Regions from separate parts of the Homo sapiens genome. Here all the other regions are linked to region 3. The links come from fine-mapping of genetic effects on gene expression. A gene starts in region 3. Each other region holds a variant in brackets. All regions are shown on one strand. Distances are from middle to middle.

Region 1 (4,238 bases), 170 kb before region 3:
CTAAGATTGGACCTCAAAGGGGGATGCCCTGAGGAATCCTCTGGACCTCAACCTCTCCAAAGGGGATGCACTCAGAAGAGGTTCTGAGGTCTAGTACTAAGCAGTCCTTAGAATTTTCTCTTGGAGTTGCAATACTGTTTGGCCTCAATATTGCTTGGAATCTAGAGTTTACCATTGAATGGGAAAGTGGGATGGTGTTGCATGTATCCAGACTTAGGTGCTGCTGTCCCAAGCAGGGGGCTTGGTTAATGTGTGATGCTCTCCTTTGGTGATGTTTGGCCCCAGTGCTCTTTGGAGTCTGGGGGTTTGGCCTTTAAAAATCAAACTGCCATGGAGACTGCTTTACCCAAAATTTTGGATCACAGTCTTTATTGGATTATCTATTGGGGCAAAGTAAAGCCGGTGAGCTTTATTGCTATCTCATGGCTAGCATTCCAAGCTATTGGATCTTCATTTATATGTGTGTATACAAGTCTAGATGTGTTTATTTGTATGTACACTTATTGTTATATGTTGTGACTAGCAAATTGGCTTATAAGTAAAAGAGTGGTCATATATTAAATGATTAAGTGTAAGCAATTTTCAAGTTCAGGTAACTTAAGTATAACTTTACTAAAAAAGCTGGCTTTAAAATTATCGGTGGAACAAAACCAGAAATGCCTTCAGAATTGTCAGCATACATTTTGTCTGAATTTTATATTTGTCTTTGCTAGACATTTTGAGATGTCAGTGTTTGGCATAGAAAGTTATAAAACTATAAGCCCAGTCAAAACAAAATGATTTGACTTGTGTGCCTTTTTTGACAAATGAGAGTAATTTAATGTTAGCTAAATCTCCTGAGTTATTGGCAAAAATACCTATGTATTTAACTTTGAGACATGTACTTAGGTTTAGGTGAGCACCTGATGTTCACTGGCTATTAGAAACATGGTTAACAAGGGAATCACTAACTTTAAAATGATAGTGTCTAATATCTCAGTTTACAGAAGTAATCTAGATAAACTGTTAAAAGTGAAAGAATCGAGTCCAGTGAATGGGGTAAATGTTTTACATAAACTTTTTGTGTAAATTAAAATCTTAAAATTATTTTTGATCCTCATTTAATATCTGGGTCATTTCCAATGAAGAAAGGTTTGTGATATAAGGAAATATGGTTCTAAAAACTGTGGAATTGTTCTTATCTATAAGTGCCCACATCTGATAGTTCAGGATTTCTTGCTTTTTGGGATTTCACTAAAGTTTTAGGTTACCAAGCATAAGAATTCTAGTAGACACATAATTCTGTATACAAAATGTCCCAGAAAGCGTTATGTTATTAGTGAGAAAAAGAATAACTTTGTCTGATTCAGAAGTTATCTAAGAGAGGTGGAGCCAAGATGGCCGAATAGGAACAGCTCCAGTCTACAGCTCCCAGTGTGAGTGATGCAGAAGATGGGTGATTTCTGCATTTTCAACTGAGGTACCGGGTTCATCTCACTGGGGAGTGTCAGAGAGTGGGTTCAGGACAGTGGATGCAACACACTGAGCATGAGCCAAAGCAGGGTGAGTCATCGCGTCACCCAGGAAGTGCAAGGGGTCAGGGAATTCCCTTTCATAGTCAAAGAAAGGGGTGACAGACGGCACCTGGAAAATTGGGTCACACACACCCTAATACTGTGCTTTTCCAATGGTCTTAGCAAACGGCACACCAGGAGATTATATCCTGCGACTGGCTTGGAGGGTCCTATGCTCACGGAGCCTCGCTCATTGCTAGCACAGCAGTCAGATCAAACTGCAAGGCGGCAGCGAGGCTGGGGGAGGGCACCCAAAACTGCCGAGGCTTGAGTAGGTAAACAAAGCGGCTGGGAAGCTCAAACTGGGTGGAGCCCACCACAGCTCAAGGAGACCTGCCTGCCTCTGTAGACTCCACCACTGGGGCAGGGCATAGCCAAACAAAAGGCAGCAGAAACCTCTGCAGACTTAAATGTCCCTGTCTGACAGCTTTGAAGAGAGTAGTAGTTCTCCCAGCACGCAGCTGGAGATCTGAGAACAGACAGACTGCCTCCTCAGGTGGGTCCCTAAACCCCGAGTAGCCTAACTGGGAGGCACCCTCCAGTAGGGGCAGACTGACACCTCACACGGCCAGGTACTCCTCTGAGACAAAATTTCCAGGCAAACGATCCGGCAGCAACATTTGCTGTTCACCAACATCCGCTGTTCTGCAGCCACCGCTGCTGATACCCAGGCAAACAGGGTCTGGAGTGGACCTCCAGCAAACA[C/A]CAACAGACCTGCAGCTGAGGGTCCTGACTGTTAGAAGGAAAACCAACAAACAGAAAGGACATCCACATCAAAACCCCATCTGTACGTCACCATGATCAAAGACCAAAGGTAGATAAAACCACAAAGATGGGGAAAAAACAAAGCAGCAAAACTGGAAACTCTAAAAATCAGAGTGCCTCTCCTCTTCCAAAGGAACACAGCTCCTCACCAGCAATGGAACAAAGCTGGACGGAGAATGACTTTGACGAGTTGAGAGAAGAAGGCTTCAGATGATCAAACTACTCCAAGCTAAAGGAGGAAGTTCAAACCCATGGCAAAGAAGTTAAAAACCTTGAAAAAAAATTAGACGAATGGCTAACTAGAATAACCCAATGCAGGGAAGTCCTTAAAGGACCTGACGGAGCCGAAAACCATGGCACGAGAACTACGTGATGAATGCACAAGCCTCAGTAGCCAATTCGATCAACTGGAAGAAAGGGTATCAGTGATGGAACATCAAATGAATGAAATGAAGTGAGAAGTTTAGAGAAAAAAGAATAAAAAGAAATGAACAAAGCCTCCAAGAAATATGGGACTATGTGAAAAGACTGAATCTATGTATGATTGGTGTACCTGAAAGTGATGGGGAGAAGGGAACCAAGTTGGAAAACACTCTTCAGGATATTATCCAGGAGAACTTCCCCAATCTAGCAAGGCAGGCCAACATTCAGATTCAGGAAATACAGAGAATGCCACAAAGATACTCCTCGAGAAGAGCAACTCCAAGACACATAATTGTCAGATTCACCAAAGTTGCAATGAAGGAAAAAAGGTTAAGGGCAGCCAGAGAGAAAGGTCGGGTTACCCACAAAGGGAAGCCCATCAGACTAACAGCTGATCTCTCGGCACAAACTCTACAAGCCAGAAGAGAGTGGGGGCCAATATTCAACATTCTTAAAGAAAAGAATTTTCAACCCAGAATTTCATATCCAGCCAAACTAAACTTCATAAGTGAAGGAGAAATAAAATACTTTACAGACAAGCAAATGCTGAGAGATTTTGTCACCAGCAGGCCTGCCTTACAAGAGCTCCTGAAGGAAGCACTAAACATGGAAAGGAACAACCAGTACCAGCCACTGCAAAAACATGCCACATTGTAAAGACCATCAAGGGCAGGAAAAAACTGCATCAACTAATGAGCAAAATAAACAGCTAACATCATAATGACAGGATCAAATTCACACATAACAATATTAACCTTAAATGTAAATGGGCTAAATGCTCCAATTAAAAGACACAGACTGGCAAATTGGATAAAGAGTCAAGACCCATCAGTGTGCTGTATTCAGGAAACCCATCTCATGTGCAGAGACACACATAGGCTCAAAATAAAGGGATGGAGGAAGATCTACCAAACAAATGGAAACAAAAAGGCAGGGGTTGCAATCCTAGTCTCTGATAAAACAGACTTTAAACCAACAAAAATCAAAAGACACAAAGAAGGCCATTACATAATGGTAAAGGGATCAATACAACAAGAAGAGCTAACTATCCTAAATATATATGCACTCAATACAGGAGCACCCAGATTCATAAAGCAAGTCCTTAGAGACCTACAAAGAGACTTAGACTCCCACACAATAATGGGAGACTTTAACACCCCACTGTGAACATTAGACAGATCAACGAAACAGAAAGTTAACAAGGATATCCAGGAATTGAACTCAGCTCTGCACCAAGTGGATCTAATAGACATCTACAGAACTCTCCACCCAAGATCAACAGAATATACATTCTTTTCAGCACCACACCACACCTATTCCAAAATTGACCACATAGTTGGCAGTAAAGCACTCCTCAAAAAGAACAGAAATTATAACAAACTGTCTCTCAGACCACAGTGCAATCAAACTAGAACTCAGGATTAAGAAACTCACTCAAAACCGCTCAACTACATGGAAACTGAACAACCTGCTCCTGAATGACTACCTGGTACATAA
Region 2 (4,238 bases), 410 kb after region 3:
CGTGTGTAACTGTGTGTTGTGTATGAGTCTATGAGATGAAGGTGAGTGTGCGTGTGTAACTGTGTTGTGCGTGTTGTGTGTGTCTGTGAGGTGAAGGTGAGTGCGCATGTGCGTGTGTAACTGTGTTGTGTGTGTGAGTCTATGAGAAGGTGAGGTGCATGTGTCACTCTGTGTAGTGTGTGAGTCTATGAGATGAAGGTGAGTGTGCACAACTGTGTGTTGTGTGTGTGTAGTGTGTGTGTCTATGAGATGAAGGTGAGTGTGCGTGTGTAACTGTGTGTTGTGTGTGTAGTGTGTGAGAGAGTCTGAGATGAAGGTGAGTGTGCATAACTGTGTTGTGTGTGTAGTGTGTGTGAGTCTGAGGTGAAGGTGAGTGTGCGTGTGTAACTGTGTTGTGTGTGTAATGTGCGTGTGGGTCTGTGAGGTGAAAGTGTGTTTGCGTGTGTAACTGCATGGTGTGTGTGCGTGAGATTCTGTGTTGTGTGTGCACAGCCAGCAGCATGTAGAGGCAGGGAGGCCTGGTGGAGCACACCTGCTTCCCGGTGACTCCAAGTCTTCCCAAGGGTTTTCTTCCTTTGAAGTGGGCGGCAGGAAGGAGGGGCACTGAGAGCTGGCAGTGAGGGGCCAGCTCAGAACCCAGAAGCCCTTTTCAGGGGATCGAGCATCTGGGCCGCAGAGGCCCTCGGAGATCCTGCTGCCCAGCTACAGCTCACCTGCAGCGCCTGCAATGCCGTCGGGGCTGAACAGGCCAGTGCTGTAGCTGCCTCCCCGCCAAGGCCTCTGCCTGCTGCACCTGCTGCCCTGACCTGTGTGCTCCCTATTGTAGCTGAGCCCAGGACTGGGGCAAAGAGGCTAGGAAAACCTTGCCAGGTGAGCAGTTTTTGGAGCTGGCACAGTGCTCAAAATAAAATGAAACAAAACCTGGACTGGAACTCAGGAGTCGTGGGCCTGTCGCAGACCTGCTGGTGATCTTGAGTAAGCCCCTTGCCCACTCTGGGTGCCGAATGGATGAGCCTGGATGCCCTCTCAAGATCAAAGGGAACGATGAGGCCTGTCTGATCTCCCAGCTTCAGAGGCAAAGTCCTGTGACCCATTGAAAGTAATTTTATCTCCCAGCTCCTGAGCGCAGGTGCTGAGTGGGATTCAGTGAAGGGCTGGCGCACGGGGAGGGCATCAGGAAGTGCTAGAGGAACTGGACTGGGGACTGATCCCCTGGGGCTACTGAGTCTATGCCCCAGGTAACTGGCTGGGCACAGACTTCATCCCCAGGCTCTGGGAGAGAGAGGGGGAAGGGGAGGCAGGGCTGCCACTAGCCCTTAGGACTTGTTCGTGCGAATTAGAACAATTAGAAAAAGGCGCTCAGTGAGTGGAGCATCCTGGCAAAACCGGACTGGTGAAGGTTCTGCGCGCGTCTGCCAGGTGCCAGGGAAGGTCTCCCAGCGGTCTTGCGCGGAAGGCGTTATCAGCCCCGCTTATTAGATGAGGCGGCGCCTGCAGTAGAGGGGGCCGTCTCCGCAGGGTCTGCAGCGCCGGGGCCCGCACCTCCTGCTCCGCGGCCCGCCGCCGCCAGCCCGGGGCTGACCTCTCAGAGCAGGGCGGAGGATTTTCACAGCACAGCTTCCCGAGAGAGCGGGATTAAGGGGGAACTGCTCGGGTGGGCCAGAGCCAGGGGCTAGGGGGAGGCCGGGCGGAAACCCAAAACCTCCGCAGCTGTTTCCAGTTTGCCGCCCTGGCTGGACCGCGGTGGCTGCGTGCAGAGCGAGCAAGGCTGCGCGGGCCTGGAGCGCCCACGGGGCGCGGGACCTCTCTCTGTCTCCCCCCGCCCCGCGGGGCTCTCTCTCGTCCTCTCTGTCTTGGTGGGGCTCAGTCTGTCTCTCGTTTTCTCTCCCTGTTTCTAAGATCTCGTGGAATCAAAGACATTTTGGAGGTCTCTGGTCCATCTGAAAGGGGGATACTGGGTTCACCCGATCCCACGCTTTGCCTTCTAGAGCTTGCTGCCCTGGAC[A/AC]CCCCCCACCCCATTCCCCCACCCCGACCCCGCCCCTCGGCCCCCAGCTCCAGGCCCGCCAACCCCGCCAACCCCGTTGCACTCCCATGCAGAGAGGTGGCCCTCCAAGCCCAGGGTTCAGAGCTCAGGTCAGGAGTCCTGGCAAGGGCTTTGGGGACAGGCTTTGCCTCCCAGCCAAACTCTGCCCTTCAGGCCCACACCCTCCTCTCCTGGGCATCTTTTCCACCTGCCTGCACCCCTAAGCCCCAGGCTTACCCCATGGGAGTCCCCATGAAGGTCCAGGGTCCCAGCACTGACTTTATACTCTAGGCAGAGGCAGGAAACCTCCAAGCCCCGCTCCCACCCAGGAGTCAAACCCTGGAGACAGCTCAGACAGAGATTGAGCAGTAGTGGAGGAGCCAGGGCCTGCGCTCTGGAGTCATACAGATCTTGGTGCAAATTCTGCTTTGCTGCTTACTAGCTGTGCTCCCTTGAGCAGACACCTTGAGCCTCAGTTCTAAGATGAGGGTGTACTCAGGAAGCAGTAGGTGCAGTGCTTGGCGCAGAATAGGCTTCAGGGCACAGGGGTTCTGCTCAATCCCTCTACAGCCCAATACTCCATATGATCCCATCACTCTCCTGTTCTAATGCCTTCCATGGCTCCCTAGTACCTATAGAATAACCCAAATCCCTCTATTGACAGTACAGGCCTTCTATGATGGCTTCCAAATCCACCTTTCATGCTCTTACCTCAAAAGCACTAGAGAGAGGCTGGAACAACACACTCCACGTTCTCCTACTGCCATGCTTTTCCTCAGTCTGTAGCTGTCACCAGGAACACATTTCCCACAACCTCCTGCTTGCCCACATATTTATGCAACTTAAGGTCTGCAAGGCCTTGCCTGGTGCCTTTCCTAGTCAATCTGCCAGAAAGGAGTGGTTTATTCCTTGCTTCACTTGACCATGCAGCTTCACAGACAATCAGCCAGGCCCTCAGCTGGGCAATGGGGTCAGAGAAGAGTAAGACCAGCCATATACTTGGGTAGCTCGAGTCTGGGGGGTTAGACCAGGTTCATCCTTGGCATCTGGCAGGTGCGGTGGTCTTCCAGGGAGGGGAGCATGTGGGCAGGTACTGCCGAGGGCAGCTGGCAGGAGCCGAAGTGGGTACTCTCCAAGAGCTGGCTCTGGCCCTCTCTTCTCTCCACAGCATGTGTCCCCACCAGACCTCATCACTTACCAACTCATCCACAGTAGAACTCCTGGGTTGAGCCTTAGAGTTTAAACTTCAAGTCATAAGCTGGGGCTGAGGCCACTGGTTTGCCACCTGATATAGTTTGGGTATTTGTCCCCTCCAAATCTCATGTTGAAATTTGATCCCCAGTGTTGGTGGTGGGGCCTAATGGGAGGTGTTTGGGTCATGGAGGTGAGTCCCTCATGAATGGCTTGTTGCTGTCCCTGAAGTAATGAGTGCATTACTGTTAGTTCACTGGAGAGCTGGTTGTTTAAAAGAGCCTGGCACCCCCGCCCCACTTTCTTGCTCTATCTCTTTCTATGTGACACACCTGCTCCCCCTTCACCTTCTGCCATGATTGGAAGCTTCCTCAGCCCTCACCAGAAGCAGGTGCCGGTGCCATACTTCTTGAATAGCCTGCAGAACTGTAAGCCAAGCAAACCTCTTTACTTTATAAATTATCAAGCTTCAAGTATTCCTTTATAGGAATGTAAAATGGACTAAGACCACCTTAGACAGGAAGCCCCTCCACAAGCAGGGGTTTCCAGCTTCCAGTAGCTCTCCTTTAGGCCAAGGAACTCAACACCCCCAGATGGGCGAGGGAAGAGTCAGCTACACCCATGTTTGAATTTTGCTTTCATTGCTTCCTTGCTTTAAAACCTTGGGCAAGTTCCTTAACCTGCTATAGCCTCAGCTGCTGCTTCTGGAAAATGATGATAAATAGAGATAATATAATAGGAGGTAATATAGAACAGTGCTTCTTAAACTTTAGTGTGCATCACCTGGAGGGCTTGTGAAAACAGATTGCTGTACTCCACCTAGGAAATTTTGATTCAGTAGGTCTGGGATGGGGGTTCAAGAATTTGCATTTCTGTCCTGCTCCCACTTGACAGCTGAGGGCTGCCAGACTACAGACCAAGTGGCACCGATGTAGAAAAAATGGACCAATACTGTTGTATTAGTCCATTCTCACACTGCTATGAAGAACTAACTAAGACAAGGTAACTTATAAAGAAAACAGGT
Region 3 (4,238 bases):
GCATTTGACCTAGCAATCCCATTGCTGGGTGTGTACCCAAAGGAATAAATCATTATATTATAAAGATACATGTGGCTGGGTGTGGTTGCTCATGCCTGTAATCCCAGCACTTTGGGAAGCTCAGGAGGGTGGATCATCTGAGGATAGGAGTTCGAGACCAGCCTGAACAACATGGTAAAACCCCGTCTCTACTAAAAATACAAAAAAACAAAAAAATTAGCCGGGTGTGGTGGCAGGCACCTGTAGTCCCAGCTACTCGGGAGGCTGAGGCACGAGAATTGCTTGAACCCGGGAGGAGGAGGTTGCAGTGAGCAGAGATTGCACCATTGCACTCCAGCCTGGGTGAGGGAGTAAGACTCCATCTCAAAAAAAATAAAAAAATAATGATACATGCAAGCATATGTTCATTGCAGCACTATTCACAGTAGCAAAGACATGGAATCAACCCAAATGCCCATAAATGATAGACTAGATAAGGAAAATATGGTACATATATACCATGGAATACTATGCAGACATAAAAAGGAATGAGATCATGTACTTTGCAGGGACATGGATGGAGCTGGAGGCCATTATCCTCAGCAAAGTAACACAGGAACAGAAAACCAAACACTGCATACTCTCACTTAAAAGTGGGATCTTTTAAGTGAACAAAAAAGAGGGGAACAACATACAGTGGGGCCTGTTGGGGCAGGGGTGGGGAGAGCATCAGGATAAATAGCTAATGCATGCTGGGCTTAATATCTAGGTGATGGGTTGACAGTTGCAGCAAACCACCATGTTTTTACCTATGTAACAAACCTGTACATCCTGCACATGTAGCCTGGAACTTAAAATAAAATTAAATTAAAATTAAAAAGAAAACAGCACCACCACCATCAAGGAAAGCCTGTTCCCAACCTCCAATTCCAGCTCACTAGCTCAGCCTGTCTCATTCCCCTTTTTCTCTCTCCCCTCTCCTCCCTGCCCCTTTCCTCACTTTGCCCCCACCTGTCCTCACCATCCCACCCCATACCTCCAAGCTCACAGCTAGAACTGACCAAAGGCCCAGTTATTTATTTACAAAGTCCATGTCCAGAACTGTACCAGCCTCAGCGGTGTGGAATAAACTGGTGTGGCCAGGTCCATTGTGCTGATGCCTCAAGAGATCCAGGCTGGTACAGATGGGTCTGGCACATTCTGTACCTGCCAGCCAAGCAGAGCATCCAGCTTACTTCTCACTCGACTCCTTACATAACGCTCGTCGGGTACTCTCCATTCCTTGGGCTTAAATTCCATAGTGTAATATTAGTAAACCAGGCTAAATGATCCTAAGGATCTTGCTAGCTCTGACGCACCGTGATCTTGCATCCAATTCAGTTCACTCTGTAATAAATAATCATAATAACAATAGTAATTTTCCAAATAGCTAACAGTTATTGTGTACTGTATGCTAAGCACTATTCTATGTATTTCATGTGAATGTTTAACATTCATAACACCACTTATCATGTAGACATCATTTACTGCCCTAATTTACAGTGAACTGGAGCTCCGAGAGTCACGTTGATTTAACCACAGTCCCAGGCTACCAAGTGTCCAAGCTGTGCTGCTTCCAAGCTGCCTGACCCAGACCTGAGCTCTTAACCTCTCAATGGGCATCCAGGTCGAAAGCAGAATCTCTGGCTCAAGTGCCGACTGCCCAGCTGTTTCAGAACTCCACCATGCACCCAACTGCTCCTCCAGGACTTCCCTACGGATGTGTTGCAGGCTCTGAAACGTCACACATCCACGCCGCATCCTCATCCCACACATGCTCCTGCTTGTCCCTGGCATCTGCCATTCTCAGTGCCATTCACTAGCCTATATGATGCCTTCGAATCAGAGGAAGTTACCTCTCCCTCCAGGGATACGGGCCCACACCTGGTCTCAGGGACCCTTTAGTGGAGGCACAGTCTATATAGCCCAGAGCAGTGCCCCTGATGCCATCGTCTTCCAATTTGCTCAGAGCAGACACTGGGATTCATCCTTAATATCTCTCTCTTCTCTCTCTCTCTCTCTCTCTCTCTCTCGCGGAGGCCCCACTGCCCTTGCATTCCACAGGAAGTCCCAGTTGCTGGCATGACCTGAGAGGTTCCTGGGACCACGCCATGGAAATGCGTCCGGTCCCAGTGTGACGGGGAAGAGCCGCGCCTGAAGCTCAACTTCCGAGGCTCTCATCAATCTACGCTTCCTTTGGAGCGTGCAGCCACCAGGTGGCAGCCGAGGCCACGGGCAGACAGAAAAGCTCCCGAAACTGAAGGACTGCCAGGCAGCAGAGTTCCGGAGGGCTCCCAGGACCTTCAACCAGAAAGAGACAGAGCATATGCGCATATGTATGTCTGAGCCCGTGCACGGAGGAGGAGTATGAACAGACACCGCGGGACAGATGGCTGGAGTTTAGTCCCTTCCTTCGGGGCTCTTCACCACTCCTTGGGCTTCCCTTCTCCTGTCCAGCCCTGTCCTGGGTGCACAGAGAGGGAAGTCACTCCATTCCTGCCCTTGAGGAGCTCCCAGACCCAGGGCAGGAGCAGGATGCAGACAAGTAGACAGCACCCTGGGGTGGGTGGAGTGAGTGGGGCAGGTGGGGCGGGTGCAAAGAGAGGGAGGAGCAGGGGCTGAAGTTGCCCGGAGGAAGTGCTGAACCCAGGAGTGGGGAAAGGAGCATCTGGGAAGAAATGGCATCTACGCTGATCATGGAGGGCTTTCTGGCAAGTCTCAGGAGCAATAATAACACGGATGTCATCTCTGTTTCCTCCCAGCAGCCCTGCAAGGAATGTACTATAGAGCCAATTTTACCGGCAAAGGAATGGAAGATCTGAAAGGCTAGGCGATCCCACAAGCATCGAGGAGCAGGCTGGAATTTGAACCAATCGGCATGATTCCCAAGCTCAAGCTTTTGGCCACCCCTGCACTGCCAGGGACAAAAAAAAAAAAAAAAAAAAACCCTGGGAGGAGAGCCAAGCTAGGGAGTCAAGACCCTCCAGCCAGGTCTGGATGGGAGGCAGGTGCCTCCACCCTGGTCCCAGAGCAAGTTCTGCTGGCTTCAGCCACCTGACTTCCCTGTGAAGGTGGGTAGAGGCCAGAGCAGACTGTGTGTGATTCTGGCCCCAGCCCCAGCACCTCTACCCCCACCTTTACTACCCCTAGGCTGCGGGAAGAGGCTTTGCCCAGCAATAGTCCTGATCTAATGGATCCTTGAAGCACAATAAACAGATAGTATTTCTGCATGTGTCACTCTGAGTATGACGGCAGTAATCTTGAAACTCCCCTTGACCACCTGGCACTCTGGAGACGGAACTCCACAGCCTGTTTTCAAAGCCAACTCCTGGCTGGAAGTTCCTCTTCAAGTCTAAATGAAGTAAGCAGTGCTGCAGTCTTCCCTCAACTGTGCAGTTGCTGGGTGGAGGCTTTTCTTTTCTGCCTGAGTTTGGGTATAACCTATAATGTAACCCTATGAAACTTACATGTTTTAGGTGGGAGAGGGGAAAACAAGGTGCAAGCCCTGTTCCAGGAAGAGCAAAAATGTCCTCAACAGTAAGAGGACATTCTGGGCTGAGAGCCAGGGCTTGAGGCAGCCTGCAATCCTGGCAGATAGCTGGTGGAAGGGACCACAGAGAGATGATACCACACACAGAAGTGAGACCAATGAGATCGTGGGAACTGCCCGGCCAAGGGTTGACATCAAGGAAGCTTAGGAGGCAGGGGACAGCTGGGAAGGGGACAACCAAGAGAACCAGCTGGAAACTGAAAAGGGATGCAAGAGAGAAAGAGGAGGTGGGCACTGAGCTCAGGTGGAGGAGGAGAAAGGCAAACAGGAGAGAGAGAGGCAGAGGATGAGACAAAAACAGAGGTGGAGAGACTGAGAAACAGGGAGACAGAGATGGATGGAGGCTGGGAGAGACAAAGAGGAGACAGGCCTGGGCAGGAGAGGTCCTACGTGGGGAGAAAAGGTTGGGAAGAGAGCAGGAAAGAGAGAAGGAGCACAGGTGTCTGGAGGTTCCCACCAGGCCCAGCCCACCCCTCCTGCAGGCTGGGTCTCTCCCTTGTCTGCCAATCACGAAGCTCAGGATCCCCTCCCTCAGGGCTGGGGGTGGAGAGCTCGCCTCCAGCCCCGCCCTAGTCCAGAGGCTCCCCCTCCCCAGGCCCTGGGAGGCTGCCCCTGGGACTGGCTGTGCAGCGATAGATGGTGGGGGCCCAGCTGGTGCGTTATCAGCCTT

What was found. PIP is the estimated chance that this variant, and not a neighbour inherited with it, causes the effect.
Region 1: its variant is fine-mapped to the expression of LINC00853 in whole blood (INTERVAL, PIP above 0.99).
Region 2: its variant is fine-mapped to the expression of LINC00853 in whole blood (INTERVAL, PIP above 0.99).

What each region holds. Positions count from the first base shown.
Region 1 is chr1:47,005,085-47,009,322 of GRCh38, forward strand. It overlaps a transcript of CYP4X1 not described here. Among named protein-coding and RNA genes, the nearest start is that of CYP4X1, 16 kb to the right of the region's middle. The variant C/A (reference allele first, on the strand shown) is at 2,259.
Region 2 is chr1:47,591,717-47,595,954 of GRCh38, forward strand. No RefSeq gene overlaps it. Among named protein-coding and RNA genes, the nearest start is that of LINC01738, 95 kb to the right of the region's middle. The variant A/AC (reference allele first, on the strand shown) is at 2,006.
Region 3 is chr1:47,177,085-47,181,322 of GRCh38, forward strand. LINC00853 (long intergenic non-protein coding RNA 853) reads left to right here and starts at 2,166. Exons shown (of 2, transcript NR_047498.1): 1 at 2,166-2,354; 2 at 2,784-3,255. CYP4A22-AS1 (CYP4A22 antisense RNA 1) reads right to left here and starts at 2,539. Exons shown (of 6, transcript NR_199717.1): 1 at 2,106-2,539; 2 at 1,041-1,365. RefSeq lists enhancers at 2,037-2,538, 4,164-4,238 and a cis regulatory region at 4,227-4,238.